5 separate regions of the Homo sapiens genome follow, and all the other regions are linked to region 3. The links come from fine-mapping of genetic effects on gene expression. A gene starts in region 3. Each other region holds a variant in brackets. All regions are shown on one strand. Distances are between the middles of the regions.

What was found. PIP is the estimated chance that this variant, and not a neighbour inherited with it, causes the effect.
Region 1: its variant is fine-mapped to the expression of NECAB2 in whole blood (TOPMed, PIP above 0.99). The same link has a PIP of 0.9 or more in blood mononuclear cells and monocytes.
Region 2: its variant is fine-mapped to the expression of NECAB2 in whole blood (TOPMed, PIP above 0.99). The same link has a PIP of 0.9 or more in neutrophils.
Region 4: its variant is fine-mapped to the expression of NECAB2 in whole blood (TOPMed, PIP above 0.99).
Region 5: its variant is fine-mapped to the expression of NECAB2 in whole blood (INTERVAL, PIP 0.92).

The regions. Positions count from the first base shown.
Region 1 is chr16:84,026,336-84,032,687 of GRCh38, reverse strand. It overlaps SLC38A8 (solute carrier family 38 member 8), which reads left to right. Exons shown (of 11, transcript NM_001080442.3): 5 at 720-821; 6 at 3,137-3,194. Among named protein-coding and RNA genes, the nearest start is that of SLC38A8, 13 kb to the left of the region's middle. RefSeq lists an enhancer at 5,063-5,564. The variant C/T (reference allele first, on the strand shown) is at 2,873.
Region 2 is chr16:83,991,532-83,997,883 of GRCh38, reverse strand. It overlaps NECAB2 (N-terminal EF-hand calcium binding protein 2), which reads right to left. Exons shown (of 13, transcript NM_019065.3): 7 at 3,464-3,582; 8 at 3,196-3,275; 9 at 615-668. Among named protein-coding and RNA genes, the nearest start is that of NECAB2, 26 kb to the right of the region's middle. RefSeq lists a silencer at 1,839-1,898. The variant C/G (reference allele first, on the strand shown) is at 3,385.
Region 3 is chr16:83,964,758-83,971,109 of GRCh38, reverse strand. It overlaps NECAB2 (N-terminal EF-hand calcium binding protein 2), which reads right to left and starts at 2,866. Exons shown (of 13, transcript NM_019065.3): 1 at 2,261-2,866. The coding sequence starts at 2,461. It overlaps OSGIN1 (oxidative stress induced growth inhibitor 1), which reads right to left. Exons shown (of 6, transcript NM_182981.3): 6 at 4,778-6,048. The coding sequence ends at 5,103. RefSeq lists a silencer at 2,801-2,990.
Region 4 is chr16:84,066,321-84,070,320 of GRCh38, reverse strand. It overlaps MBTPS1 (membrane bound transcription factor peptidase, site 1), which reads left to right. Exons shown (of 23, transcript NM_003791.4): 14 at 283-455; 15 at 1,867-1,982; 16 at 2,498-2,654; 17 at 3,708-3,832. Among named protein-coding and RNA genes, the nearest start is that of SLC38A8, 26 kb to the right of the region's middle. The variant C/T (reference allele first, on the strand shown) is at 2,249.
Region 5 is chr16:83,999,401-84,004,726 of GRCh38, reverse strand. NECAB2 (N-terminal EF-hand calcium binding protein 2) reads right to left here. Exons shown (of 13, transcript NM_019065.3): 11 at 3,926-4,003; 12 at 2,811-2,902; 13 at 1,951-2,409. The coding sequence ends at 2,381. Among named protein-coding and RNA genes, the nearest start is that of NECAB2, 34 kb to the right of the region's middle. RefSeq lists an enhancer at 1,621-2,403. The variant C/T (reference allele first, on the strand shown) is at 1,983.

The DNA.
Region 1 (6,352 bases), 62 kb before region 3:
CCCTCAGGTCTCTGCCCTGCAAGGCTCTCGTGCCACTCAGACCAAGCCAGGGGGCGGCTTGTCCCCTCTCAAGTGTGAGCGAGCCTGCTGGCGTCCTGCCTTAGGCATCAGGCTGAGTGGCTGATTAGCTTTTGCTGGTGGGAAGGAAACACTATTACAGCTGCCATCCCGAAGGGCGCCGGGTGCCATTAAGAATTCTACACATTTGGGCTGGGCGTCACACCTGTAATTCCAGCACTTTGGGAGGCCAAGGCAGGCAGATCACGAGGTCAGCAGTTCAAAACCAGCCTGACCAACACGGTGAAACCCTGTCTCTACTAAAAGTACAAAAATTAGCGAGGCGTGGGGGCGGACACCTGTAATCCCAGCTATTCGGGAGGCTGAGGCAGGAGAATTGCTTGAACCCGGGAGGCAGAGTTTGCAGTGAGCCAAGATTGCGCCACTGCACTCCAGCCTGGGCAACAGAGCGAGACTCCGTCTCAAAAAACAACAACAACAACAAAACAACAACAACAAAACTCTACATCTGACCCCTTGACCCCAAAGCAGCCCTGCCCCACATGCCCCCTGTACAGATGAGGATGGTGAGGCAGAGGTGGACAGCTTGGCCAGCACCTCATTGTCAAGGGCGGAGCTGGGATTCAGATCCCACTACTGTCCCCGTGCATCAACCGCACATGTCACCCACTGCGCAGCCCCTCACACGGTCACTGTGTTAGCATCCTAGGCACTCTGGCTGCCTGTTACCTGGCCCTGGTCATCACCGTGCAGTACTACCTCTGGCCCCAGGGCCTCGTGCGTGAGTCCCATCCTTCACTGAGGTAAGTCTGAGGGAACAGCTTCCGGCAGCCTCGGCGGGGAGGCACGGCAGGGGAGTCTGTGAGGGGAGTCTTGGAGGAGGAGCCTCTCGTGGCTCACTGCAGAGCCTGGGCTCCTTCCTTCCAGTTCTTTCCGTCTCTGATGCGGTGAAGGCAAGGGAGGGCCACTCTCCTTCTGCTGCAGGGACCTGGCCGTGGCTAGCGATGACCGGGACAGGCCAAGGGACGCAGAACCGCCAAAGGCTGCGGCGGCCTAGGGGTCATAGGTTATTGCAGACTTGTCCCCACAGTGTGGAGGTACAGAATCTGGCAGCCATCCAGCTGCATGTACCGGGGCAGGGGAACAGTGAGGAGGCCGGTGTGGCCAAGCCAGCCGGAACAAGGGCAGAGAGCATGGGCGGGGATGTCGTACAGGGATTCAGAGCCACGGCGAGGAGTTTGGTTTTGCTCTGGATGAGTTGGGAGACTTGGCAGTGTTTTGAGTACAGCAGGGATGTGACAGGATTTGTTTTTAGAAAGGGTCACTCTAGGTAGGGTGTGGTGGCTCATAGTTGTGATCCCAGCACTTTGGGAGGCTGAGGCAGGTGGATCACTTGAGGTCAGGAGTTCAAAACCAACCTTGCCAACATGGTGAAACCCTGTCTCTACATAAAAATATAAAATTCAGCCAGGTGTGATGGTGGGCATCTGTAATCCCAGCTATTCAGGAGGCTGAGGCAGGAGAATTGCTTGAACCGGGTGGCAGAGGTTGCAGTGAGCCGAGATGATACCACTGCACTCCAGCCTGGGCAACAGAGCAAGACTCTGTCTCAAAAAAGAAAAAAATTAATAAAAAGGCTCACCCTTTTTATTCTGTTCTGTGGTCCTTGGGAGCCAGGGGCAGCAACAGAGACCAAGTGGGAGGCCTCTGCCTAGATCCCGGGTCCCAGACCTGGTGGCTTCAGAGGAGGCAATGAGGAATAGTCAGACTGGATATGCTTGAGATCGGATTTCCCAGTGGCAGGGCTGGCTCGTGGGTGTGCGACCCCTACAGTCACCCAGGCCCCATGCTCAGTGTACCCTTCTGATGTCACTGTCTTAAAATCCTTAATCCTTGTCCAACAAGGGTCCCCGCATATTCCTCCTGCACCTGGCCCTGTGAATTCTGTGGTCAGTGCTGCTGGTGGGTTGGAAGGTGAGTAAGAGAGAGAAGAAAGTCAAGGTAACTTGGAGCTCTCAGCTTGAACAGTGGGAAGGATGGAGATGCTGTTTCCTGGATTAGAGAGGACTGAGCAGGGCGGGTCCCTGGGAGCAGCTCAGGCTGGAACAGTCAAGGTAGAGCCGACCTGGAGACATCTAAGAGGGAAGTCAAGCAGCTGGGCAGGTCTGTGTGTCTGAAGTTCAGAGAGAGAGGTCCGGGCTGGCAGGAGAAACGTGGCTGACGTTGGCCCAGACATGGCATTGAAGGCTGTGAGTGCTGAGATCTGTACACTGAGCCGGTGGTACTCTAGCACAGGCAGGTCGAGGGGATGAGGAGGCCCTGGTAAAAACAGGAGGTGATGAGTTAGGATATGTGAGTGTCCGAGGGCTGTTGTGACAAGTGATCAAAGTGTGGTCAGGCCATGCTCCCTCCGAAGACTCCAGGGGCAGATCTTTCCTGTCTCTTCCTGCTTCTGGGGGCCGCGGCGATCTGTGTTCCTTGGCTGATAGACGGATCACTGGGTCTTGGCCTTCATCCTCACACCATGTTCTCTCTGTCTGTTTTCCCTTCCAATAAGGGCAGCAGGCATTGGATTCAGGCTCACCCTAATCCACCATGACTTCATCTTACTTTCAGTAATTACACCTGCAAAGCCTGTCAAAGGAAGCTGTGAACCAGGCGGGGATCCCAAGAGGCTGGACCTGGAGGTTCTCCCCACGCAGACCTCTGTCCTCTTAGGTGGCTTGGACAGAGCTCAAACCATCCTTGTGCTATTTGGGATCACTGGGTGGATGCTCTGGGTGCCCCCGCCCCTGCCAATTACCAAACCGCACTGGGAGCCAGCAGCCTTCAAGAGGGAAGTTGGGAGTTCCTA[C/T]TGCGGTTTTCCTGCCCAAATTCTGCCCACATGTAAAATGTCATGTTACCAAATGTCAGCAAAGACGTATTTAGAAAGTGCAGCATTTAGCCAGCATCCTTTTCCATTTCCAAAAGCCCGGTCACGGACACAGTCATTAAAAATACATCTTGCAGCCATGCTCTGTTACATTTTCCCAGCATCCTTTAAAATTCACCATTGCAGCCGCAGGTTGTTCCGGGTGTGACCCTTCTTTAATAAACTCCTGTTCTTGTCTGTTTACAGCCCTGCCTCCTGGACCTCTGTGTTCAGTGTCTTCCCCACCATCTGCTTCGGGTTTCAGGTAATTTTAGCATCTGTGTTGCAGCCTGTGGCGTTTGCAGAGGCTGTGGGTGACTCTCTGCTCCCTTGGGAAACCTTGGTTTCTCTGTCAGGGAGGCGTCTGAGGACTTCTCCTAGGATACAGTGGGCTCTGTGCCGCCCACCTGTGGTTCCCAGGCTGTCATTCCAGACCATGAGGATGGGTTGGTGTCTGGGCTCAGGGAAGTGGGAATTGCCTTGAACTTGGGAATCCAGCCCCCACTGATGGCCAAAAGCAGCACCATGTTTTTTAGGTTTCGCGTAGAGTGTGGGGACCCGGGACCTGTCCCTTCCTCTGCAGAACCCCCACAGGACTGCAGTCAGACCTGAGGCCTGGAGGCCTAAGCTGCCCACCTAACTCTGGCAGGACAGTTTTACCCAGGTGGACTCTGCCCAGGGCCTTGGGCAGGAAAGATCCTGCCTCCTGAGGGGTACAGGGTAGAGGAGCTGGAAGGTGTACAGGGAGCTGATTGGAGAGGGGAAAGGGGCAGAAATACAGAATTTTTAATAGAATGTCATGGGAGGGAGGACGGGGCTATATGTGTAGAATCCTGGCAGAGGGGCAGAGTCAGAGGTGTCCGCTCAAGGTGGTGGGGTTTGAAAGGGATCTTGAAGGATGTATGGGCAGCAGCCAGGTGACTGGAAGCGCACCCCAGGTAGAGAGGACAGCACAGGTGGGATAGCATAGGTGGGTCACCGATGTGAGCGGGCCCCAGGCACAGCTGGAGAGAGACCTGCAGAGGGCTCTGTGGCACAGCGCTGGGGGGAAGGTGGCGGGGCAGGGGGGGCAGGGGAGGTGGCGGGCCTGGGCTCAGTCCTCTGCTTCTGGGCTGTCATGGGTTCCCGCAGCCCTCCTAGCAGGTGGAAGCAGACACTGCTCTTCCATTTCTTTCTTTTTTTTTTTTTCTTTTTTTGAGTTGGAGTCTCATTCTTATTGCCCAGGCTGGAGTGTAGTGGATCTCAGCTCACTGCACTGCACCTCCTGGGTTCAAGCCTCCTGAGTAGCTGGGACTACAGGCGTGCACCACCATGCCTGGCTAATTTTTTTTGGTATTTTTAGTACAGAGGGAGTTTCACTATGTTGGCCAGGCTGGTCTTGAACTCCTGACGTCAAGCGATCTGCCCTCCTCGGCCTCCCACAGTGCTAGGATTATAGGCGTGAGCCACCGTGCCTGGCCACGCTGCTTATTTTCGGGAAGATTTGCCTCGATGTCCTAAAAACAACCACCTATCCACTGCCTACCACCAGCACCAACAAAACCATTCCAAAGTAAAATCAAGTCCACAGGGAGATGTGTCCAGGGTTTACCACCGGATCTCAGCTTTGTAGCCATTGAGCTCGTCTCTTCCCTTGACCATCAGTGAGCTCTGCTTCTGTTCTTCATCTTGCCTTTTCTTTGAGAACCCTTTTTAGGAAAAAAAAAAAAAAAATCTTGAAACATTTCCATTTCTCTTCCTCGTAATCAGTCGGCGTGCTGCTTCAGGGCCTCAGCAAGCCACTTCTGTGGATTTCTCACATTGCTTCCTGCACGCCCAATATTTTGAAAGATCTGAAGAGCTGATTTTGCTGTCAACTGTTTGTCTGGACTGAGTTTAAGAACCTCTCTCTGTGCCCAAGCGCCATATGGTGCAGCAGACCTACGCCGGGGCCGCCTCCCCGATGCTTGCAAGGGGTGCCCCTCACCTTTGCCTCCAGCCCTCACCGGATTCTCCTAGCAACGAGGCCTGGGCTGCGTTTCCAGGGACACGGGATGCCGAGATGAAGAGCTGGGAAGGATAGGAACTGAAGGAGTGGGAGTAGGGGCTCAGGCTAGAGGTGGGGGCTGCCAGGATCTGAAGCGGGGGAGAATAAATGTAACTGAAGGTGCTGGGAAAAGGGGGTAAGGCTGGAGAGGGCTGCAGGAAAGGGACGGTCACATACTGTCATCAGGAACTCTGACCTGACTCAAACACAGCGTCCCCGCCCAAACACATTTGGCAATGGGGCACCCCCGCCCCAGGCCTGTCCAGTCAGTGAGAGGGGCCTCAGGAGCAGAGGGGTTGTGTCCACTCCCAGCCAATGCGGCTACACCAGGACTTCTAGTGTGTGTTTGTTTGTTTGTTTGTTTGTTTGTTTTAATTTTGCTTTTGTGGCAGACTTGCTCTGTCGCCCAGGCTGGAGTGCAGTGGTGTGATCTTGGCTCACTGCAGCCTCCGCCTCCTGGGTTCAAGCGATTCTCCTGCCTCAGCCTCTTGAGTAGCTGGGATTACAGGCGCCTGTCACCACGTCCAGCTAATTTTTGTATTTTTAGTAGAGACGAGGTTTCAACACGTTGGCCAGGCTGGTCTCGATCTCTTAACCTTTTGATCTGCCCACCTCAGCCTCCCAAAGTGCTGGGATTACAGGCGTGAGCCACTGTGCCTGGCTGGTTTTTGTGGTTTTAAAAAATATCTTTATTGAGATAGGATGCATATACCGTGCCATTCACCCTTCTGAAGTGTGCAGTGCAATGGATTTTAGTACAGTCAGAGCTGTGCAACCATCACCACAGTCAATTGAGAACCTTTCTGTTGCCCCTCGAAGAAACCCATCGCCGTCAGTCACTCTCCATTCTCCACCTCTGCCCGCAGCTCTTGCACTTCTTGTCTGTCTGGATTTGCCTACGATGGCCACCTCCTAGGAATGGAATCCTATTGTGGCCTTTTAAGACAGGCTTCCCTCCCCCGCCGTGTTGGTGGGATTCATCCATGTTGTAGCCACCCTATCTGTGGTCAAATAATATTCCATTGTGTGGATAAGCTGCGCTTTATCCCCTGTCCTTTGATGGGCATCTGGGTGGGGTCCACTTTTTGGCCACTGTGTCGTCTTCCTGTCTCCTTCCATCACCGAGCAACTGCCCACTGCCACCACCTCCTGGGTACTGCCTGCCCTCAGCAGGCCTGCTCTGCTTCCCCTTATAAAACCAGTAGAGGCTGGGCACGGTGGCTCATGCCTGTAACCCCAGGAATTTAAGAGGCCGAGGCGGGTGGATCACCTGAGGTCAGGAGTTCAAGACCAGCCTGGCCAACATGGTGAAACCCCATCTTCACTAAAAATACAAAAATTAGCCGGGCATGGCGGTGCGGGCCTGTAATCCCAGCTACTTGGGAGGCTGAATCAGA
Region 2 (6,352 bases), 27 kb before region 3:
AGTTGATGGACTCAGCATTTTCACATCACTGTCTGGCTGATCACTTTGCTCTATGCCAAACCTTTTTTGGATCAAAGTCCAGGAGCCTCTGGGCCAGGTGTGGTGGCTCACGCCTGTAATCTCAGCACTTTAGGAGGCCAAGGTGGGCAGATCATGAGGATAGGAGTTTGAGACCAGCCTGACCAACATGGTGAAACCCTGTCCGTCTCTACTAAAAATACCAAAAAAATTAGCCAGGCGTGGTGGCACACACCTGTAATCCCAGCTACTCAGGAGGCTGAGGCAGGAGAATTGCTTGAACCCAGGAGGCAGAGGTTGCAGTAAGCCGACATCCCACCACTGCACTCCAGCCTGGGAGATACAGCAAGACTCCATCTCAAAAAAAAAAAAAAAAAAAAAAAAAAGGTCCAGGGAGCCTCAAGAAATACCCCCGGAGTTGGTGGGGTGGCTCCTGTGCCAGGGCAGGGTCTGGGTGCCAAGCGCTGGGCGACATCTCCCCTCCTGGTGGTCCCAAGCAGGGAGAGCGGGGTCAGGGGCATTGAGCCACTTGGATCTTGGCAGTCCTGGCATGGGTAGGGATGTGGTCCCAGAAGAGAGGTGGGAAGGGGCCTCACCATGTTGGTGCCATCTTCATCTGACAGGCGCTGCTGCAGGTCGAACCACAGTGCCTGAAACAATCCAGCACACAGTGATGCTAGACCCAGAGCCCCACTCCGCCCCGGGGAGCCAGGAGCTCTGGGATCCCTGGGGCTGTTGGGAGCTCCCAAGGACCCGGCCCTGTTGCACAGGGCTGGGAGACCAACGCTAGGAAGTGGCAGAGACTCCCTCTGGCCTACAGGGGGCCTAGAACATGTTGCTGGGGTGAGGATGGCTTGGGAGAGGCAGCAAGGGGGACTCCAGAGGCCTGAGTCCAAGATGCTGGGGTTTGCCACTATGATGAGCAACAGCCCTTAGATTCCCTGTAACTTATAATTCACCCCAAATCATAACCCCCAGCACCTCAGGGATCTAATGGGGTGAACTGTTCTCTCTGGTCTTCCCCAGACTCTAAGCTAGATGGTTTACAAATACACAATCTTCCAGACTCCCCAGGGAAGGTGCTGCCCCACTGTAAGTTTCGGTCTCCAGGAACCACATCTGCTCTGTTCGCCCACGACTGGTGCCCACACAGGGCTGAGCCCCCACAGAAGATCAACAGTCACTATGTCACGGCAGAGAACCCCGGCTCTGAAGGCACGAAAGCCATGTAAGTGTCAGAGCGTGGGTCTGAACCCAGTGTGTCTACCTGACGCACAGGCTCATGCTGCTGCTTCCTTCAGCTTGGGCACCCCACTAACCACCTCTGTGGCTATCTCTGTCCATCCTCCATGAGGACAGACCATCTACGGGAGTCACACAGGGCAGCCACAGGTAAAGCACGCCAGCTAATAAGGAAAACAGCAGCAGGTGGATGAGTCTGTGTAGTCACCACCGTGACGTTCTAAATGTTTGAGCAAGGGACCTTGCACGCTCATTTTGCACTGGGCTCTGTAGTAGCTGATCCTGGCAAGGGTACTGCCTTCTGGGGGCACACAGCATGAACACGCCTTGGTAAGTGGTGAAGGTGTGCCTGGCAGGAACAAGTCTGTTTCCATGGTTTTACAAGCATACGTGAGGGGTCCTGGGGCTGGAAAAGCCATAGGAGGATGAGGAGAGGCACTGTGGCCCCTGTATCTGCCCCATTCTTCTCCCAGCCAGGGGCCCCTAGAGCCTCCATCCTTCCAGCCCAGAGGCAGCTCCGGTTGGCCGGTGAAGGGCGGGGCCTGAAGCCAGGCCCGGATTGGCCCCTGCTGACCGCCCGGGCCAGTTAGAGGCTGGGGAGGAGGACCTGGTCCCACCCCGTCTCCAGGACGCCCAGGTACTCCGTGGTTACCAGCCAGCCTGGTTGTTAGGGCGACGGTGCTCTAAAAATAAGCTTCAGAGTCTCCCTCCCGAGGCGCCCGCTGAGTTGTTATGACAACCGGGCCACGGGGTCCCCTCCGAGCCGCTCCCGCAGCTGGCTTCAGGAAGGGGGTAACTCCACCTCAGCCTCATCCCTGCAGGAGGGGAAGTTTGAGCTTCCTCCCTCGGACTTCATTCCACGTCAGCCTCTGTCTCCCTCCATGCGGGGAGCCCCTTGTTCCTGCCCCCATGAATGCCTGAGAACCCCCAAACTAAAAGTAGCAATACCCTTTACAAAGGGTGTAAAAAAAATACACAAAAGTAGGAGAAACATAAAACCACCTCAATCCCAGGGTTCTGAGAGCTCAGTTACCTTGGCTTATGTGGGTATACGGGTGTGCTGTGTGCATGTGGATAGGTTTGGGTAACAGAATGCCTCATAATAATTGCTAACATTGCTAATATTAAATGCAAGCTACAGCACCGGGCCCTGTGCTAAACCGGAGACATCATTTTGGTTCATCCTAACGACACCCCTATGAGGGAGGGGTCCCATGCTCCAGGTTATTTTCTTGATTATCAGAGGAGGAATCTAAGCCTCAGAGAGGACAAGTCCCTGGCCCAGGGTCACACAGCTATGAAGTGGCACAACCAGAATTCTGACTGATACCTGAGCCCATCTGTCTGTAGGCCCTAAGACAAACTTTTCTTTCCACCAAATGGTCATATTGTGAGCACTCTATCCCGAGTCACGAAACATTATCTGAAAATGTTTTCTGTAAGGGCTGTGCCATTTTCTATCACCTGTGGACGTCCCATATCACACTTAATACATTTGCTACTGCTGGTCACTTCCTTCCTTGTTTTGAAACTCTCTCGAATCATCACGTCTCTCTTTCATCCTGGTGCTGCCTTTCGGCCAATATCTGCTCCAGCCACTTCAGAGCAAAGTCTCCTTGAAGCTAGGGCCTTGCAACACGGGACCCTGCTGACCACCCTCTGCTCCTGGAGCTGCTCCTGCTGCCTGCAGGCCCGCCTGACCCCCCAACACTCTCTCTTCCCAGGCGCCCCTCCTTGGGCCTGAACAACACGAGCATCCCCCGGGGTTTGATCCTTAGCTTCGTCCTCGGCAGCTCCACGCCCCACCTGGGGGATGTCTTTTTCATGGTTCCCTGGCCCCTCTGCAGCCCAGACTTTTGTCCTGAACTCCAGGCTTAACTCTGCACTCCCTCAGGGGTTGGAAGGAGTAGACGCCGTGGTCAGGCCAGGGCTTACTTTGCTCTCCAGCCTCCCAATCAGCTCTGCCAAGCGGCTGATCTGGGCTTCCAGACCCTCTTCCTTTGCATCCTCCGTGGCTGCGGTAGAGAAAGAGACACACAGACTTCAGTGGTGGGCAGGACGAGGGCTTCGGGGGGAAGCTGGAAACATCCAGCCCCTCCAGGGGCATCAAACTTGCTCATCTCC[C/G]CAGTCCCTGTCAGAGGACTCTCAGAACTCCTCGGGACCCCCAGCTGGTACCCCCACCAGGGCCCCCGCTTTCTCTCACCAGATGGAAGGGTCTTGCCTTGTTCCATAGCCATGAGCTTGTGGTTGGGGGCAGAGGCGGGAGTGGGGCTTCCACACCAGGTCTGTGCCGCGCTGTGGCTGGGTTTGATGTGGTTCTGTCTGCAGTTTGGATGGGAACACACACAGACCATGGCGGTGGCTTCAGGGCCCTTACCACTTCCAGCATCTTCCACAGGCATTTATTACGCAAGACAGTGGACTCACACATGCACAGAACTTGCATCATGGCCTTTGTTTTGACAGAGGAGGAAATGAGGTTCTTAAAGCAGGTGACTCAGCCAGGGCCACGCAGCTAGCTGGGCAGAGCTGGGATTCGAATTCAGCTCCATTCTAGGACCCCACGGCCTAGGCCTTTTCCCCAAGAGATTCAGTTCCAGAGTGAGGCTGAGCCAGGGACCCACCCCCACTCTAACAGCTCGAAGCTTTCGGGCACGTGTAGAGCCCAAGCTGTGGAGTGACCAAGTCCCCCTCCCTCCCTCATGATAGGCCCATTTAATGTTTGGTGCCCTCTGGGGTGGGGGACCTGGTTTCAAGACCCCCCTCCAACACATACACATAAAAGCGAGACCTAAAGAGACACTGACAGTCGGGATGTAACAGGACAGAAACTGTGATCCTGACCTGGGCCTGGCCCCATCTCCCGGCCCTGGACACCCCTCTCCTGTGCATACTCATGTGCATACACACCCCTGCGTGCCCTGACAGGCACAGCTAGCCACAGGCAGAGGCAGACACACACACACACACACACACACACACACACACACACACACACACACAGCTCACCTTGCACTGTGTCCAGCACATAGTAGGGACTCAAAAATGCTCAATGAATGACCAAATCCTCCCATGCAAAAGGATGCTGAAAAGCTCCTGGCAGACATACAGAAACACAGACACTCCCCCAGAAGACACACAGAGTGCCCTGTGCACGGCCCCAACACCCGCTTGGTCTCTGTGCATCGCGGTCTTGGTGCATTCTGGAATTTGTCTCTTGTGAACCTTGAACACTCCGCCAGGCTCTCCCCCTTGCGGAGGGAGCAAACTCGACTCCCGCCTTGGGAGGGGAGAGGCTGGCAGAGTCTTTATGGTGTCAATCATGGCTTCTCTATAAACCAGCAGGAAATTAAATGTATCCCTCAGACCATGACGGGTTGCTCAGGGCTCCCGGGTGGTGGGGTCTGAGCCAGTAGCCTGTGCTAGAGGTGACATCCTGGGAGACTGTCCTGGGGCTGGGAAACAGGATAGTCCTCAGGGACCCACAGCCTAGAGCCAAACTAGCTGAGATTTGGGGAAGTTCGAGGGAGGGGCATGTGTGGAACAGAGGTATCACGACAAGCTGCCCCGTCTGACAACATCCCCAAGTAAGGTCCCCACCATGGGGGCAGGTGGGTGTAACTGCTGACGCGTGATGGAGCTGACCCAGTGTGGGAAGTCTGCCCTGAAAACTGCGCAGCCATACTATCTGTTCTGCGGCAGGAGAAAAACAGCAAGTTTTTCATCAAGATAGTAACAGGAAAACCCAGGAAATCTAAGTGTCAGCTTTTTTCACAGCGATGGCTGCTAATTCTGGGGCACCCAAGAATCACAAGACTGACCACATGTGCAGAGTTCTGGGCTCCAGTCCAGGGATTCTAGCCAGTGAGTATGGCCAGGAGCCCAGGAATGTGTATTTTAATTTTCCCAGGTGATTCAGCGCAAATGCTCAGATCAAACTCATTTGGGAAACAGTGTCTCAGAGTTACCTTCACAATCATGTCTGATCAGGACCAGCTCTTCAACTACGAAGAAACACACGATCAAACCCCAGTCCCCCAGCAAACCAATATCCTGGTCCTGAGGTACCTCTCTGCCTGGAAAATTAAGGGCTCAATCGAGCTTGGGTGCCGACACCTGGCTGTTTCCCTCATCTGTTTGCATTTTCTCTTTTTCTTCTGTGTCAAGCACATCAGCTGTTCTGGGAAGAACTGAGCAAAGAAGGGTTTTTCTCAATTTGAAACAGCAAATGGAGGTGGGCGGGGGGACGGGTGCTCGTGTTCCCCGGGAGATGGGACTGCTGAGCCACGAGAATGTCGCTCCTCTCTAAATACCAGGTCACACCCCTAACACAGCAGCCACCACCTAGGATGGGACCCCAGATGCATTCCCATGGTTCCAAGCACACAAACAAGGCCTAACACAAGACCAGAAAGAAACACTCCTCTTTCACGTCTCTTTCAGTCCTCCTGAGAAACTCTCAACTTGCTACTACTGTCTTCAACACCTCTCTGATTTCCCCCCAGTCTCTCTTTTTAACAGAGAGGTGGCAAGCCTCAGGATTCAAGCTGGATCGTAAACAATGACAGGTGCTTATTTTTACAGTTACTTCACTTACGGCATGTGATGCCGAGAGTGCAGTTATAACCATATGCCATTTCCTAAACTGCTTTCTAATTTTCAAAAGTGGGCTGGGGTGTGGTGGCTCCTGCCTGTAATCCCAGCCCTTTGGAAGACTGAGACAGCAGGATTGCTGAGACCAGGAGTTTGAGAACAGCCTGGCCAACATGGCGAGACCCCGTCTCTACAAAAAAAAAAAAAAAAAAAATAGCTGGGTGTGGGTGGGACTACATGCCTGTAGTCCCAGCTCCTTGGGAGGCTGAGGTGGGAGAATTGCTTGAACCTGAGTTGGAGATTGCAGTGAGCCACAATGGTGCCACTGTACTCCAGCCTGGGGGACACAGCAAGATTCTGTGTCAATAAATAAAATAAGGCCGGGCTCCATGGCTCAAGCCTGCAATCCCAGCACCTGGAGGCTGAGGCGGGTGGATCACCCTAAAGACCAGCCTGGCCAACATGGTGAAACCCCATCTCTACTAAAAATACAAAAATT
Region 3 (6,352 bases):
TATTTTTTTTTTTTTTGAGATGGGGTCTCGCTCTGTCACCCAGGCTGGAGTGCAGTGGCGCGATCTTGGCTCACTGCAACTTCTGCCTCCCGGGTTCAAGCAATTCTCCTGTATCAGCCTTCCGAGTAGCTGGGACTACAGACGCCCGCCATCACAACTGGCTAATTTTTGTATTTTTTAGTAGAGACGAGGTTTCACCTTGTTGGTCAAGCTGGTCTCGAACCCCTGACCTCAGGTGATCCACCCGCCTCGGCCTCCCAAAGTGCTGGGATTACAGGCGTGAGCCACGGCGCCCTGCCCACCAGCACTTTAAAGCCTGAGAAGGATCCCAGCTTCTGCGGTGGCCCCCACCCCAATCTCAGTGGCTTGTTTTAACAAGGAGGGTACTGAGACCCAGGGAGAGGCAGCAACATGTACACATTTCCCGACACCAGGGAGGGCTGCTGGGGCCAGGTCAGCCATGGAGGAGGAGGAGGTAATACTCACTCTGACCCTTCCACCCTCTGTCCTCGCCTTGGGGTAAAGGACAGATGCCCTCGCCCCCCATCCCTCCAGGCAACGAGAAAGGGGGCACCCTTGGTCATTTCTAGGCACCTGGGCGGTGAGACTGAAGCACAGCTATGGGAGGGCCTCTCAAACATCACCCCTCCTCCTGGCTGAACCTCAGATCCCCAAGCCCTCCTCAAAGATCCAGCCTGGGCACCCCGCAGCCCCGTTCCTGACTGGGCAAGGCTCCTCAAAACTGGGGTCCCTATCTGGGTGTCCCAGATCCCCCTTGAGGCCAGGCACCAGGTAGGTGCCGGCTCTGGGCAGGAATGCTGAACACATGAGTGACATGGCAGGGCTGACACCTGGTAATGTCAGCCAGCTCCAGGAGTCTGCATGAGCACCTCCCGCCCCACCCCCCGCTCATCACTCCTTTTGGCAGGTGAGGAGATGGAACCTCAGAGCCCCCACCCTGACTGGGCAGGGCTTCCATGCAGGGCAGCTTGGGGCTGCAGGGCTCTGCCCAGGACTTTCAGTGGGAGCTCTGCGGGGGTCCTGAGGAGGGGATGGTTTGGCTGCATGGGTGTGTCTCTGGCTGTGTGTGCGTGCGTAAGCGAGTGCGTGAGTGTGTGAATGTGTGCCTGCGAGTGTGGCACTCTAGAGCTCCCCCTGCTCTGGCCGGCCCTCCCAGCCCAGACCCCGGCCAAGGGTTCCAGGAGCAGGGAAGAGGAGAGAGGAAGGGAGGGAATCCCCCGACTCACAGGGATCCGCGATACACGCGTGTGCACATTCACACACACCCACCACTCTCCCAGAAATCCACCACACAGGCAGAGGCAGCCCCCAGCCCCACCCCAGCAGGACCCTCGCTGAAACACGCAGTCAACATCCCCAGAAGCCTCCTCCACCTCCTCCTAGCACTCTCTGCTGGGAGAAGTCCTCCTCCTCCGAGCCGCCCCCTGAAGATTCCTCCCTCCCGGGTGGGGCGGGTGGGAGGGTGAGGTGGGCTTCCCAGAGATGGGTGATTTGGGTCCCAGGGGAGTTAGGAGGGGTGAGGGGTGAGTCTGGTCCATGAAGAGGACCCAGCTCTCTGTAGGGTAGAGGGGTGTGGGGAAGGGAACAGAGGACTTGGAATGGAAGGGGGCGGGGTGGGGAAGACCAGAGGGGTACCAGCTCAGGGCTGATGGGCGATGGCTCTGGCTCAATGGAAAGGAGACGAGAAGACAGAAGGTGGGGAGGGGGCTTCACTTTTAAAGTGGCAGTAGCTGGGGCAAAGGGTCTTTGAGCGTGAGATGAACGGGGGCTCAGGGTCTAGGGCGAAGAGAGGTGGGCTAGAGGTAGGGGTTGTTAGGGGTCTCAGAAAAGTATCGCTCCGGACAGGATCCGGGATGGAGAGGAGGAGGCGGCTGGACGCGGCGAGGGGCTCCGGTCCCGCGGGGTAAAGGGTGGGGGTTTGGCTTGGACAAAACTAGGGGGACAGTGGCCGGGTCCGGGGGCTCACGGCTCCCCACTGTGGGCAGGCAGGGACTCCGAGAAGCGCCGGTGGAGGGGCGGAGGAGGGGGGTCTCCCGGTCCAGGGAGAGGACTGGGCTGGAGACCGGCCTGGACGTGGCGGGGCTGGGGGCTCCCGCTCCGGCACGCGGAGGGGCCGGGGGTCTCCTGCCCGGGTAGGGAGGGCCTCGCGGGTCGCGGCGTCGGGGTCCGCCCGAGGGGCGGAGGGGGCTCCGGGTCCCAGCGGAGGCCACGGCGGGGGTCCCGGCCGGCGCGTACTCACGTCCAGGATGACGGCGGTGCCCCCGCGCGGCGAGGCTGGGCCGGGGTCCGCGGGGGCGGCGGGGGCCAGCGACTCCCGGGGCTCGCCCATCCTGGCGCCCACCCAGCGCAGCAGCCCGCCCAGCGCCCGGCCCTGCTGCGGCGGCTCCCGGAGCAGCCTGTGCGCGCCGGCCCTGCACAGGCGCGCCGCCCGCTCGCACATCGCGCCGCGCCCGCCGCCGCCGCCCGGAAGCCCGCCGACCCCCGCCCAGCTGCGGCCCGCCCCCGCGCGACCCCCTCCCCGCGCTGCCCGCGCCGCCCCGCCCTCTCTCCCGCTGCCCCCGCGGCCGCGGACACCGCGGGGACTGGCCGGCGCCGGGGGGCGGGCCGGCCGGACCCCGAGCCACGTGCCCGCTCCCCGCCGCCCCCACCCCCGCCGGCCGGGCGCGGGGCCTGAGGACTGCCCGCCGGGGCGAGGGGCGCGGGCGCAGCCACAGAGGGGGCTACCCGGAGGGGAGGGGTATGTGGGGCCTGGGGGCGGGGCGGCGCCCCTGGGGCCTGCTCCCCAAAAGTCTCCTGCTCTCCCCGCTTCTAAAGTCCCCCCTCCCACTCGCGGCGCGCAGCAGAGGCCGAAGCGCGGGTGTCCAGCGAGCCCGGAGCGCCCTCTGCCGGCTCCAGCCCCGGGGAGCGGCGCCCACGCCCCGCGGCCCCGTCACGCCCGCGGGCGCCCATCCTTAACTCCCGCGGGCGTGCACGCCCCCTCAGGCCGCCCCCTTGGTTACAAAACGCCCAGAACCAGTCTTCACCCCAGAACATCTTTCCTTCATACTCCATCCACCCATCCATCTATCCACCCACCCACCTGTCCGTCCATCCATCCATCCATCCATCCACCTGCCTACCCGTCCATCAATCCATCTATACATCCATCCACCCATCCTCCCATCCATCCATCCGGCCGGCCGACTGTCCGTCCATCCATCCACCCACCCTCCCAACCATTCATCCATCCATCCATCCACCCACCCAGCATCCTCCCATCCATCCATCCATTCACCCACCCACTCATCCTCCCTCCCTGGCATCCATCCATCCACCCTCCATCCATCCATCCATCCACCCTCCCATCCATCCATCCATCCATCCATCCATCCATCCATCCATCCGTCCATCCATCTGCCCGCCCGCCCATCTGTCTGTCCATCCACCCACCCACCCTCCCATCTATCCATCTATCCACCCCCCTACCCTCTCATCCATCCATCCATCCACCCACCTACACACCCTCCCATCCATCCACCCACCATCCTTCCATCCATCCATCTATCCTCCCTCCCTCCCATCCATCCATCCATCCTCCCTCCCATCCATCCACCCACCCACCCACCCCCCTCCCTCCCATCCATCCATCCATCCATCCACCCACCCACCATCCTCCCATCCATCCAACCATCCTCTCATCTATCCATCTGTCCACCCACCCACCCATCCTCCCATCCATCCATCCACCCATCCATTTAAAAGATGAATTAAGGAGAACCCACTAGGTGCCAGGCAGGTGCCCAACCACGGAGTTCCAGCAATGGGCAAAACAGATGGTGTACTTGGTCTCCCAGAGCTCCTGGAGCTTACATCCAAGTGGGCAGAGCCAAACACTGAAATGATTCCACAAACAAATGAACAATTAAAACTGAACTGCTGGAAGGGTGTGGTGGCTCATGCCTGTGATACCAACACTTTGGGGAGCCAAAGAGGGCGGATCACTTGAGGTCAGGAGTTCAAGACCAGCCTGGCCAACATGGTGAAACCCCGTCTCTATTAAAAATACAATAACTAGCTGGGCGAGGTGGCAGTCACCTGTAATCCCAGCTACTTGGGAGGCTGAGACAGGAGAATCATTTCAACCCAGAAGCAGAGGTTGTAGTGAACCAAGCGCCACAGCACTCCAGCCTGGGTGACAAAATGAGACTCTGTCTCAAAAAAAAGAAAAAAAAACTGCACTGCTATGAAAAGGTAGCACCTTAGACCATGAAAGGAGTATTTGCTGTGACGGCAGTGGAGGGGTTTGTGTCAGAAGAGGCTTCCTAGAGGAAGTGATTCTTATGCTGAGACATCCCAAGGAAAAGGAGTTAAAGAAAGGCGGGAAACTGTCCTGGGCTGGGGACTCTCTGTGCAAAGGCCTTGGGGCAGGCAGAGACCTGGCCAGCAGGAGGGACTGAAAGGAGGCCGCATGGCAGAACAGAGAGGAGGGAGGCCTGGGACAGGCTGCGGAGGGGGCGGGGCTGCAGCGCCCTCCTGGACATCACTGCCTGCACACACCCGCCACTCCCACCCCCAGACTCTAGTACAGCTGCCCGCTCAACTGCCCCCACACTTGGGGCACCATCCTTTGTACCCCAAGGCCCCAGCCATGGACCTCATCCAGGACCACATGCCCCAGGACTCCTCCCACAATCCCCTTTCCTCCCTTCCCCCCAGCCCAGTGCAGGGTTCCGGGAACGCAGCTCCCTCCGAGCACAGAGTCCTCAGACGCATGAGAGCAGGTGGGCACTGGCTTTATTTGGGACCTGCTTCTGGAAGGCGCAGGGCTGCAGGTCTCCTGGCTGGGTGCTCAGCTGGTCACACCAGCAGCTTTCCCCACAAATCCCAGGTCTAGGCCAACCCTGGCCTGCGGCCGCTGTTACCACCTCAGACACTGGTCTAAGTCCAGGGCAGCCTGGGATCCCTACTCCTCTTGACCCCAAAGGCCAGCAACGTGGGCTGACACCCCTCCCCGGGGCATCTTTGGACGGGTCCTGCATCCAGCAGGGATGTGGTCATCTCTGTCCTCTCAGGGCCTGGGAGCCAGCGGGTCTGGCCGAGTGTTAGGGTGGCTTCCTGGTCTCCTTCCTTAGCAGGGAGCTGGCCACAGCCAAGGCGCCCCCCTGCACAAACCTCACGAAGTTGTCCCCGGCCAGCGGCCCCATGGCGTACAGGCCCTCCTGGCGGGTGCTCTGGTAGGTGAAGGGGTCCACGTCAATGGGGTTCCTCTTGGCGCTCAGCGGCTGGTCAGGATCCACTGCAAAGTCAGCCCCTGCCCCAGGCAGGAAGGAGAGGTCGGGGTGGGAGCCGATGAGGACCAGCACCAGGGAGACCCCAAACACCTTCTCGACACCCTCGAGGTCCTGGAACACGGCCTGGCAGTCTTCCTTGAAGCACAGCAGCTGGTGCCTGGGGAGGCTGCGGTAACCCTCATAGGGGCTGGGCGACAGGATGGACTGCTCCCGCATCATCTGGTGCACCTTGTGGTACTCGGGGTACAGCATCTTGGGCAGCTGGTTGAACACCAGGCCAGGGTCGTCCACGGCCCGGCGGAAGGCATGGATCACCGGGATGTTGTAGTGGCGGGCGTAGAGGACCGCGTCGGCCGCTGACAGCCCCGCGCCAATGATGAGGACAGGGTCTGAGGCCGGGGTCACCGCACCCACCCTTGTGGCGGCCTCCAGGGCAGACAGCTCATGGTGGATGAAGGGCAGGGCCTCCCCGGGGATGCCCAGCCGGGCCGGGCTGTCGAACGTGCCTGTGGCGAGGACCACGTTGCGGGCCCACAGCGAGAAGGGCTGCTGGGCCTGGTTCCTGGTCAGGAAGCCGCTCACCTGGAAGAGGGGGCTGGAGTCCTGGGCCCCACAGCTGCTGGGATCGGGGGTCCCCCACTCCACGGCTGTGACTACAGCACCGGACACAAAGTTATGCCCCAGACCCTTCTTGACCACGTAGTCCCTGTAGTAGTGGGCGATGTCCCCGGCAGTGGCCCGGCTGTTGCGAAGACCTCTGTTGGGGAGGATGCAGGACGCCAGAGTCAGACACTGTTAGGGGTTGGGGGGCTGGGTGGGACGGGAGATGTCCAGGGCAGTGTCAGGCCCTGGAGCTGGACTAGGCTGTAGCTGTAGGACTAGGCCAGGTAATTCAACCTCTCTAAGCCTCAGTCTCCTCTTCTGTAAAATGGAGCTAACAAGGGTGCCTCCCTCAGGAGAGGTGGTGTAGGGTGGTGTAGGATGCTCTAGGGTGGTGTAGGGTGGGGTTCAGAGGGCAGCCTCCAGAGCCCCGCTGCCTGGGCTCGAATCCTGACTCTGCC
Region 4 (4,000 bases), 100 kb before region 3:
GCACCAAAAATATACATTCTCTAAAAGGAAATGTAGGGTTAATCCTATGAGGCTCTAGTAGTTTTTATTGATAGAATATGCCTTAAATTTTAACTGTTAAACTCTTTAAGTGTTTGAATGGACTTAGTTATGATACATGAATCTTTCATCAGACATTTGTTATTGGAAATTCTTGTGTTCAAATTATTTAGGTTAAGTTGATAAATAGAAATGATGTTTTCAAACCTGAAAGTTTCTTTCTGCACAATGAGGGCGTTTCAAGTTTCTTTTCTTTTTTTTTAGTCAAAAAATGGTGCAGAACAGACTTCAACAGTAAAGCTCCCCATTAAGGTGAAGATAATTCCTACTCCCCCGCGAAGCAAGAGAGTTCTCTGGGATCAGTACCACAACCTCCGCTATCCACCTGGCTATTTCCCCAGGGATAATTTAAGGATGAAGAATGACCCTTTAGACTGGTAAGCACCTCACAGGATGCACTTCACCTCCCCAGCCTCCGTGGTGGGAGGAGGCACCACTGTTCCCGCAACTCTTGGAAAGATGTTGCTCAGCTTCTCGTGGAGCCTGGACTCTGATGACGCTGAGATGTTCAGGCTTTTGCCATGCACTTAGGGCAGCCTGACTTCTCTTTTGAAACTTTCACAAGTATGATTATGCAGTAAAAAGCTTGAAGTTCTCTTTTCCTTCCTTCTCCCATTGCGCCAGTCAGCAAAGCTGTCAGTCTTACCCTCAAACTGCATCCTGGATCCTTCCATCTCTGGCCTTCTCCCTGCTCCCACCCTAGTCCATGCCATTGTCATCTCTTGCCTGGACCACATCAGCAGCTCCTGAGTGCCACTGCTGTTGCTGTTGTTGCCCTAAATTCCACTCCTCTTCTGGCAACCTTGGTAATCTTAAAACAAATTCTAACACAGTTTGCCTCAAGCTCTCCAGTGACTGCCTATTCTGACTTCCTCACCCGGCCAAGCCCCCTGGTGTGACCCATGCAGCCCTTCAGAAGCTGGCACTGCTTCCCCCGCAGTCCCCATAGCCGCTCTCCCTGTGCCTGTTCCCTGCAGGGCAGCTGGGCTGACTTTCTCTTGGTGCATTAGCCAAGCTCATTTCTGCTTTTATGTTTGGACTACGTTTGAACTCCATGCTGAAAGTAGGGGAAGGGGAAGCATTGAAAGATGTGACCAGGATAGTTACAGAGTCAGACTTGCCTTTTAAAATAAGATGTCTCTGGCAGCCAGATTGGAGGGGCTCAGACCAGAGACGGGTAGACAGGAAGTGGTGGGAAGTTCATAGACCAAGGCAAGCCCGTTGGCCTGCAGGAGAGGACCTGGAGTCTGTGCTGCTGGGAGGTGAGAATGAGGTGACCCCTAGAGGGTGTATACAGTGTCCCATAGGAAAGTGAGCTCATTTGGGAGGGACGGGGATGGAAAGTTGACCAGTGGCAGTGATATCAGTTAGCTGTGCCGCTGTCTTAGCACCGTGGCCCTGCGTGGCTTGTTCCAGCGTCCCTGCACTCCCGCGGCTATTTGCTAAGCTCTTCTGTCAGACACAGATGGTTGCCAGCAATTTACTTGAACGCGACTGCTACAGTGATGGTCCAGGACACATTAAACATGTCTTTGGCCATTTCTTCTGGTCATTTTGTCTCTTTCATGCACCTGCCAGGCACATGGTTTCTTCTTATCAGCCATTTCCGTGTGTCCAGACCAGAGCACACAGGTCTCCTAAGCTGATGCCTGTGCCAGTGGGCCAGCCATCCAGGCCTTCTCTGTGGGCCATGGCATGGTGCTCTTGCAGAGCCGGCCCTGTGGCCAGATATGCCTTTATTGCCAGTAAAGATCGATCATTTTAATGCTGTGGCCTATTGTTTTTCAGGAATGGTGATCACATCCACACCAATTTCAGGGATATGTACCAGCATCTGAGAAGCATGGGCTACTTTGTAGAGGTCCTCGGGGCCCCCTTCACGTGTTTTGATGCCAGTCAGTATGGTAAGTGGCACTGCTGTGCTAGCCAGATGGTCTTTCCGCCCACTTTGGATGTTTGTTAAATGTCTGAGGAGTGAATCCCAGTTTTCAGTGATAGCTACCAAGGGAGTATGCGCCGTGGGCCCCACAGCTGGGTGAGCCTGGGGCGAGGCTCTGAAACAGGTGGTGGCGGTGTGACATTCAGCTGAAATACAAGACAGGCTGATTGGAGACAGGGACATTCGTACTCTTTTTTCTTTAAGTTAAAAGCAGCTCTGCTATATATTTTG[C/T]TCCTTCTCAAGTGAATGAAAATCTTTATCCTGAGCACCACAAGTGAAATCAGATCACAGTTAGTCGCTGTGTATTGCTGGATCCTGGTCCTCTACTTTTTAGTCCCTTTTAAAGTGGTACAGGGTGGCACAAACCAGACTGTTAGGTGTCAGTAACCTGAGACATGTACCTGGTGACACTGTTTCTGCCGTGGTGGTGTCCTGTCATTCAGAAGTGACAGTTCCCAGCTTTGGTTCTTTGTTCATCAGGCACTTTGCTGATGGTGGACAGTGAGGAGGAGTACTTCCCTGAAGAGATCGCCAAGCTCCGGAGGGACGTGGACAACGGCCTCTCGCTCGTCATCTTCAGTGACTGGTACAACACTTCTGTTATGAGAAAAGTGAAGTTTTATGATGAAAACACAAGGTACTGTTGATACGCATTGGTATTTGGATAAGACTTTTGGGGAATCAAATTCTACCCAGCAAATACTTAAGTGATGATTTGACCTGTTGGTGGTCTTTCCAGTTGGCACAGACACATTCAGAGAGCTTGATTAGAAAAAAAGCCCTTTCGACTGAGTGCGGTTGCTCACGCCTGTAATCCCAGCACTTTGGAAGGCTGAGTTGGGCAGATCGGTTGAACCTGGGAGGCCAAGGCTGCAGTGAGCTGAGATCAAGCCACTGTACTCCAGCCTGGGTGTCAGAGAGACCCTATCTCAAAGAGAAAAAATAAAACACAAAAAAGAAAATAGTCCTTTATACAGTAGAGAGGTTCTTGAAAGTTGCTCATAGAGTAAGATGTTTATTGAGTATGAGTACTGTTAATAATATAGAGGGTTCATTGTCTTTCCTTGTTAATCTTAGATATGAGATACTTCAGGTTTAAACTTCTGTTTAATTCTTTTCCACTCTCTGTTACTGAGTATATATAAATTTAAATGCACCAAAGGAACTGTTTCTTAAAGAATATTTCGAGTAAATTATTGTATATTTAAATATTGTATATTTACAATAATTAATTTACTTATATTTATAGTAATTAATTTACTCAAAGGGAATAATGTCCTTCCCTTTATTGGGATCAAGGACTCCCAATGTATTATAAACATAATCACCTTTATGTTTTGAATCGGTTTCTTTAGAATCTGTGACTGAACATTTCTATGCTTCTTTCTCATCTCCTTCTCCTTCACTGAACCTTGCTGGGTCTAGGCTAAGCAGTTATCTCTGGTGCATTTCGGTAAAGTACTGATTTTCATTTCATAAAATAAATTTTGCTTTAATTAATTCTACACATCAGCCGAAGCACTTAAATTTGCAGTTTTACCCAAACCCAGACAGTTGGTTTCAGTTGAAGCCTTAGTGTGGAAGGACTGGATTGTGGCAGGAGAAATTGAGTTTTGTCACAGAGACTAAATAACTGTGTATGGAGTGTCTTCATTCCCTGTTCCCTGTGTGTCTGTTACCACTTTCCCAGGCAGTGGTGGATGCCGGATACCGGAGGAGCTAACATCCCAGCTCTGAATGAGCTGCTGTCTGTGTGGAACATGGGGTTCAGCGATGGCCTGTATGAAGGGGAGTTCACCCTGGCCAACCATGACAGTAAGGCTCTGTTTCCTGAGGGCGTGGTCTTAGGTGTGAGAGCAGAAGCTCTACACCTCTGAAGTCTAGATTTCTTGAGAAAGAGAATGGTGATCCCTCAGTTAGCTGGAGTCTGTGGAAAGAACTCACCAGTATTTTCAAAAGTACATCTGTGAGGCTCTAGTTTTG
Region 5 (5,326 bases), 34 kb before region 3:
ATGCTGTGTGGCGCAGGGGTTAGGCACAGAACTCTGGGTTTGGATCTGACTTGAGCCACTTACTTGCTGTGTGACCTCTGGTGAGTTGCTTGCCCTCTCTGTCTCCATCTCCCCACCTGCCAAGAGCAGGACAGCATAGGGGAGCATGGAGGGAGATGGGCCTGTCAAGTGCTTGACTGTGCCAGGCTCTGAAGTGTGAATTAAGCGGGAGCTCTTAGAGCTTTTAGGGTTGAAACATGTTCTTGTCAGAGCCCATCCCCGGCCACTCAGGTTCTGAGGGGGCCCCTGAAGGCTTTCAGTGCACGTGGGCTGCAATCAGCAGAGATATCACCCCCCATGGAGGCCTGGGCAGATGTGACATGTGGGAGGGGAACAGGCCCGGCTAAAGGAGGTTCCTCAGTTGTACCCCAGAAAGCCTTAGCCCCTGAGAATGTTGTTCTTAGAATAGCTGAGGTGGTTGGAATGTACCAGTCTTGTGGGTGGGGCAGCAGGAGCCTGTAAGTGGCATTCTCGTGCGCCAGGCAGTGAAGCCCCTGATCCTTCAAGGGAGGGGTCTTTTCCCCACATTACAGGTGAGAAAACAGGCCCTGAGAGGCTGGTATAGGGACATTCAGCTTGGAGACATACAGATGGTTCTTGAACCCCTTTTCTTTTCCTACAAACTCATGTCGTGTTTTGCTGGTTTTGCAGCGGCAGGCATCACACCCCGCAAGGAGGTGGCAGTACCCAAGGGGCAGGGACCTGCCCTGGGAGCAGGGTTTCAAAGCTCCCGGCAAGCACAGGGGGCTGGACAGTGTGGGCAGGGACCTTGCTGGGTGGTGAGTGTTAATAACCACATGTGGCACTGGCCAGCCCTCCAGGCTCTGTGCCTGAGGTAGAAAGGTGCCCATTCTGGGTCCTGCCCCTTCCCCTCAGGGCTCCCACCTGTGCCCTGGCCTGTGGTCTTGGCTCTGCCCTGTTTTAGGAGAGGGACCCACCATTCTCTTTGTCCTTTGAACTTTTGTGATTTTTTTTTTGAGACAGTCTCACTCTGTTGCCCAGGGTGCAGTTGTGTGATCTCTGCTCACTGCAATCTCCACCTCCTGGGTTGAAGCGATTCTCCTGCCTCAGCCTCCCAAGTGGCTGGGATTACAGGCGTGTACCATCATACCCAGCTAATTTTTATATTTTTAGTAGAGACGAGGTTTCACCATGTTGGCCAGGATGGATTCAAACTCTTGACCTCAGGTGTTCCACCAGCCTCGGCCTCCCAAAGTGCTGGGATGACAGCTTGAGCCACTGCACTGGGCTGTGAGTGACTTCTTTCCTGCTAACCCGGACTGAGAAATAGGAAGAAGTTACAAAGCTTCCAGAATAAGACTTAAGACATGATTTCCAGTTGATAGGCGGGGTCTCCTGCTGTGTTGAATGGCTAATGCACAGACGTGCCGGGAGGCATTCACCCGTCCCTGGAGCGTCCTGCCTGGTGACAGTGTCTGTGTTGAGCCACACTGCGTGGTCTGGGCCAACCATGTGATTTATGGTGGGGTGTTGAGCCATGAGGTGTCAGCGTGTATGCGTCACCGAACCCCAGTAAGACTCAGGACTGCATCCCTGATTGGTGATGCTCTATCAGCATTGAAGCTGGGAGGGTTCAGTGCTATGGGCCTTTACTGGTAGCCCCGTGCCTGGCCCCCCACTCCGGGAGCCTCTTTCTTTGCTGGATTTTGTCTGTCTGTCTGTCATCTACCTACCTTGACCGTGACTTTGACAGTTGTGCCCAGTCCTTTGAATTACTGACCTGAGGGTAGGTGTGGTGCTGAGCTCCTGAATAGGCATGAGCCTAGTTCCCAAATACCGCATAGAGTGACCACCACCATTTCATGGTTCAGAAAACTGAGGCTGGGAGCACTTGAAGGGTCCCTGGCCCCCTGCTGTTGTCAACCAGGAAACAGACACAGAGCACACAGCTCTTCCCAACCAGGGTTTATTTGGCGCCTGGG[C/T]ACAGTGGTGGCTACCTGGCTAGGTTGGGCACTACAGGGGCATGACTCCTACTAGGTAGAAGAATGTCACCGAAGAGGGCAGGGTGTGGTCAGTGTGGGTCATGCGTGGCCATGTGAGGGGTAGGGGAGAGGCCAGGACCAGGAGGCAGGGGTGCTGGCTCCAGGAAGCCGCCCCCTTCAACCTTGGGCTTCACCAGGACCTGGCAGCACAGACACTGCTCTGCCTTCTCAGGTGGGGGCAGGGGCGGCCTCCTTCACTTAACAACAGGGAAACACCTTCTTGTGGAGGATGGATTGAAAAGAAGCTTCTGCACCAAAGTGTCTGTCTAGAAAAAAACGGGATTTCCTTCACAAGAAGAAGGGGCTGGTGGGCTCCTCCACGGGCCTCTGGGAGGCTGTCAGTCCCGTCCCACCGTGCACCAAGCAGCTAAAAGGAGAGAGACACGTTAGAGGGAAGGAGTGCGAATGTGGGCAGCCTCGTAGCTGGTGGTGGTCGTCTTGAATGACAGGTCGGGGGATGGCTTTGAGTCCTTGTGTGACACACAGGTCCTTGCTGGTCACCCAGGTGCAAACCACACACCTGGGAAGGGAAATTCAGTCTGGCTGGAAGTAGGGGGCCGTGGAGGGGGTGCTCTGGTGCAAGCTCTGGCAGGCATACCTGTATGTGGGGCCACCTCAGGGCTGGCTCTGAGCCTGGCATTGGTGGCAGGAGCTGACAGTGGGCCCACAGCAAGCAGGCAAGTCCCCGGGAGATATGGGGCAGCCTCTAGGCTCTTGCCCTTCTCTCCAGTCAGGTGGCCACTGCAGTTCCAGGCCTTTGCCCCCTACCTGGCACCAAGATCCTGGAGAGGGCCTCAGGCTGGCTCAGTGTGTCCACCTTGACGTGCCGGAACGCCTTACACAGGGGGCTCTGCAGGTGCCTGTGACGCAGGGACATGTGTGAGTCAGGGGTGGCAGGAGTGGAGCTCCGCGTGTGGCTCCCCTGTTAATCCTAGCTCTAGCCCAAAATGGGGAGCTTATCAATAAGCACGGGGGGTCTTTGGACTCAGAGCCTTTGTGGGAAGGTGAGGGGGTGCCCAGGGAGGCTGACTCTGGGGTGGGCAGTGAGCTTCTCTTTTTCCCTGTGAGCTATAAATGGGCAGCGGGATCCCCCCACTCATTGCACAGAGCCTCTACCTCCCCCTTTACCCTAGCAGGAGGAGTGGGGCCATCCTCTGCCTGGGACCCATGACAACACAGAAGCTGCGAAGGCTTTTAGTCCCTCGTTTTATGAGTCACTGAAGTACGGACAGGGAGGGGACACTCTCACTTCTCATGACCGCCCCTGTTCCCACTGGGGTCCTGAGTTTGTCAGCAAACCGTGAGTGTTTACCAGGGAAGCAGGAGATGGGGGCATGGGCTACCCCTAGGCCCCGCTTCCTGCCTGTGGGGTCTGGCGCATCAGCAATAGTCTCCACCCTCTCCCAGATGTGTGCTGAGCAGAGGACAAAGGCCTAAGGCCCATCAGAGCTGCTGACACCCTACCCCATCTCCGTCCCTCGTACCGGGCACTCAGCTGGAGGGGAGGTTAGTCGCTGGAACAATTGATCACATGGGGACTGAGTCACCTTCTAGGTTAGGCCCTCAACTCTACAGGGTGGTAAAGAAGGCAGTGCCTCGGCCCCCAGGGCTGTTCCAGGAGGACAAGGTGCTCTAGGGGCACAGAAGCAACCCTGGGGAAAGCAGGAAAGCCCAGCTGAGTGTGGTGGGGGCTCTCACTACCCACCAAGAGCTCCTGCCTCCACCAGGGTTTACTGACGCAAGCATGCCAGCGGGTAGATGCCTCGGGAATCTGCTGACTGGACTCGGCCTTACCCTCCCCTCCAAGGATGCCTGGCTCCAGGAAGACAGCCCCCCCACTTCCCTCTGTCTCCCTCACCTGCTGTGGGGACCCAGCATCTCACCTCTTCCACGCCTCCTCTGTCTCCCAGAACTCATAGATGACAAAGGTGAAGCCATCTGAGAGCCTCACGGCAGTGATGCTGCAACAGGAGATGGTCGGGGGGAGGAGGCTGGAGCTCAACCAAGGCCACCTCAGTGCTGTTCCCCTGGGGTGGCCTGAGACCCACCACTATACACAACGGCTGCCTTCAATGTTTCTTCCTGTCTTGACCTCCATCGAGACTCGACAGGGTGACCCCAGCACAGGGAATAAGGCCTGGCTTCTTATAGTGGCCAACAGCTATTTATTAAATAGAATCAATGCAGTGTAGTTTTTCTTTTGAGATAGGGTCTCACTCTGTTGCCCAGGCTGGAGTGCAGTGGCACAATCACTTCAGCCTTCCAAGTAGCGGGGACTAGAGGAGTGCACCACTCGGCCTAATTCAAAAACTGTCCCAATAGAGATGGGGTCTTGCTATGTTCCCCATGCTGGTCTTTAACTCCTGGGCTCAGGCTGTCTTCTCACCTTGGCTTCCCAAAGTGCCAGGATTGCAAACTTCAGCCACTGTGCCCAGCTGAAATGTCATGTTAAAGTGTGAACATTTATTTAAACAAAACCAGGTGGCTGGATGTGATGGTTCACGCCTGTAATCGCAGAACTTTGGGAAGTCTTGAGGGGTCGAGGCAGGTGGATTACGTGAGGTCAGGAGTTCAAGACCAGCCTAGCCAACATGGCAAAACACTGTCTCTTTAAAAAAAAAAAAAATAAAACTTGCTGGGCCTGGTGGCACATCCCTGTAATCCCAGCGATGCAGGACACTGAGGCATGAGACTCATTTAAACCCTCTGGTGAGAGGTTGCAGTGAGCTGAGCTTCCACTACTACACACTCACTCCTGCCTGGACAATAAAGCAAGATTTGGTCTCAAAAAACCTTTAAAAATCAAAAAACCTTTAAAAATCAAAGCATCTTCCCTCTTCTTCCTTCTACTTGTCCTCTCATTTAATCCTTGCAACACCCCCACTGCACTGTACCTGACCTGACCAAAGGAGGCTGAGGGGAGGGGGTGCTGGGCCACAGAGGAAGGGGCTGCAGGCAAGTCCCCCATTGCTCTATGGGACCCAGGGGCCCGCACTCACGTCATTTTAAAGGTGCTGATAGTCTATGCCGCCCCAGAATCCTCTCTGCAAGTGCACTACAATGAGGAAGCCCCAAGTGACCATAAAGCGGGGGCCAAAAGCTGGGGAGGAGGGGCTACAGTGCTCAGCCTAGAGGAAGGGGCCGGGCTGGATTCCATCTTGGGGTGGACACACCTCCGTGCAGCTTTAGGTGCACCATGCCTGGGAAGTAGAATCTCACCTGGCTCTCCAGGCTTGCCGTCTCCAACTCGACAAACCAGAGCCTCTACGTCCACCGTGCCTCCT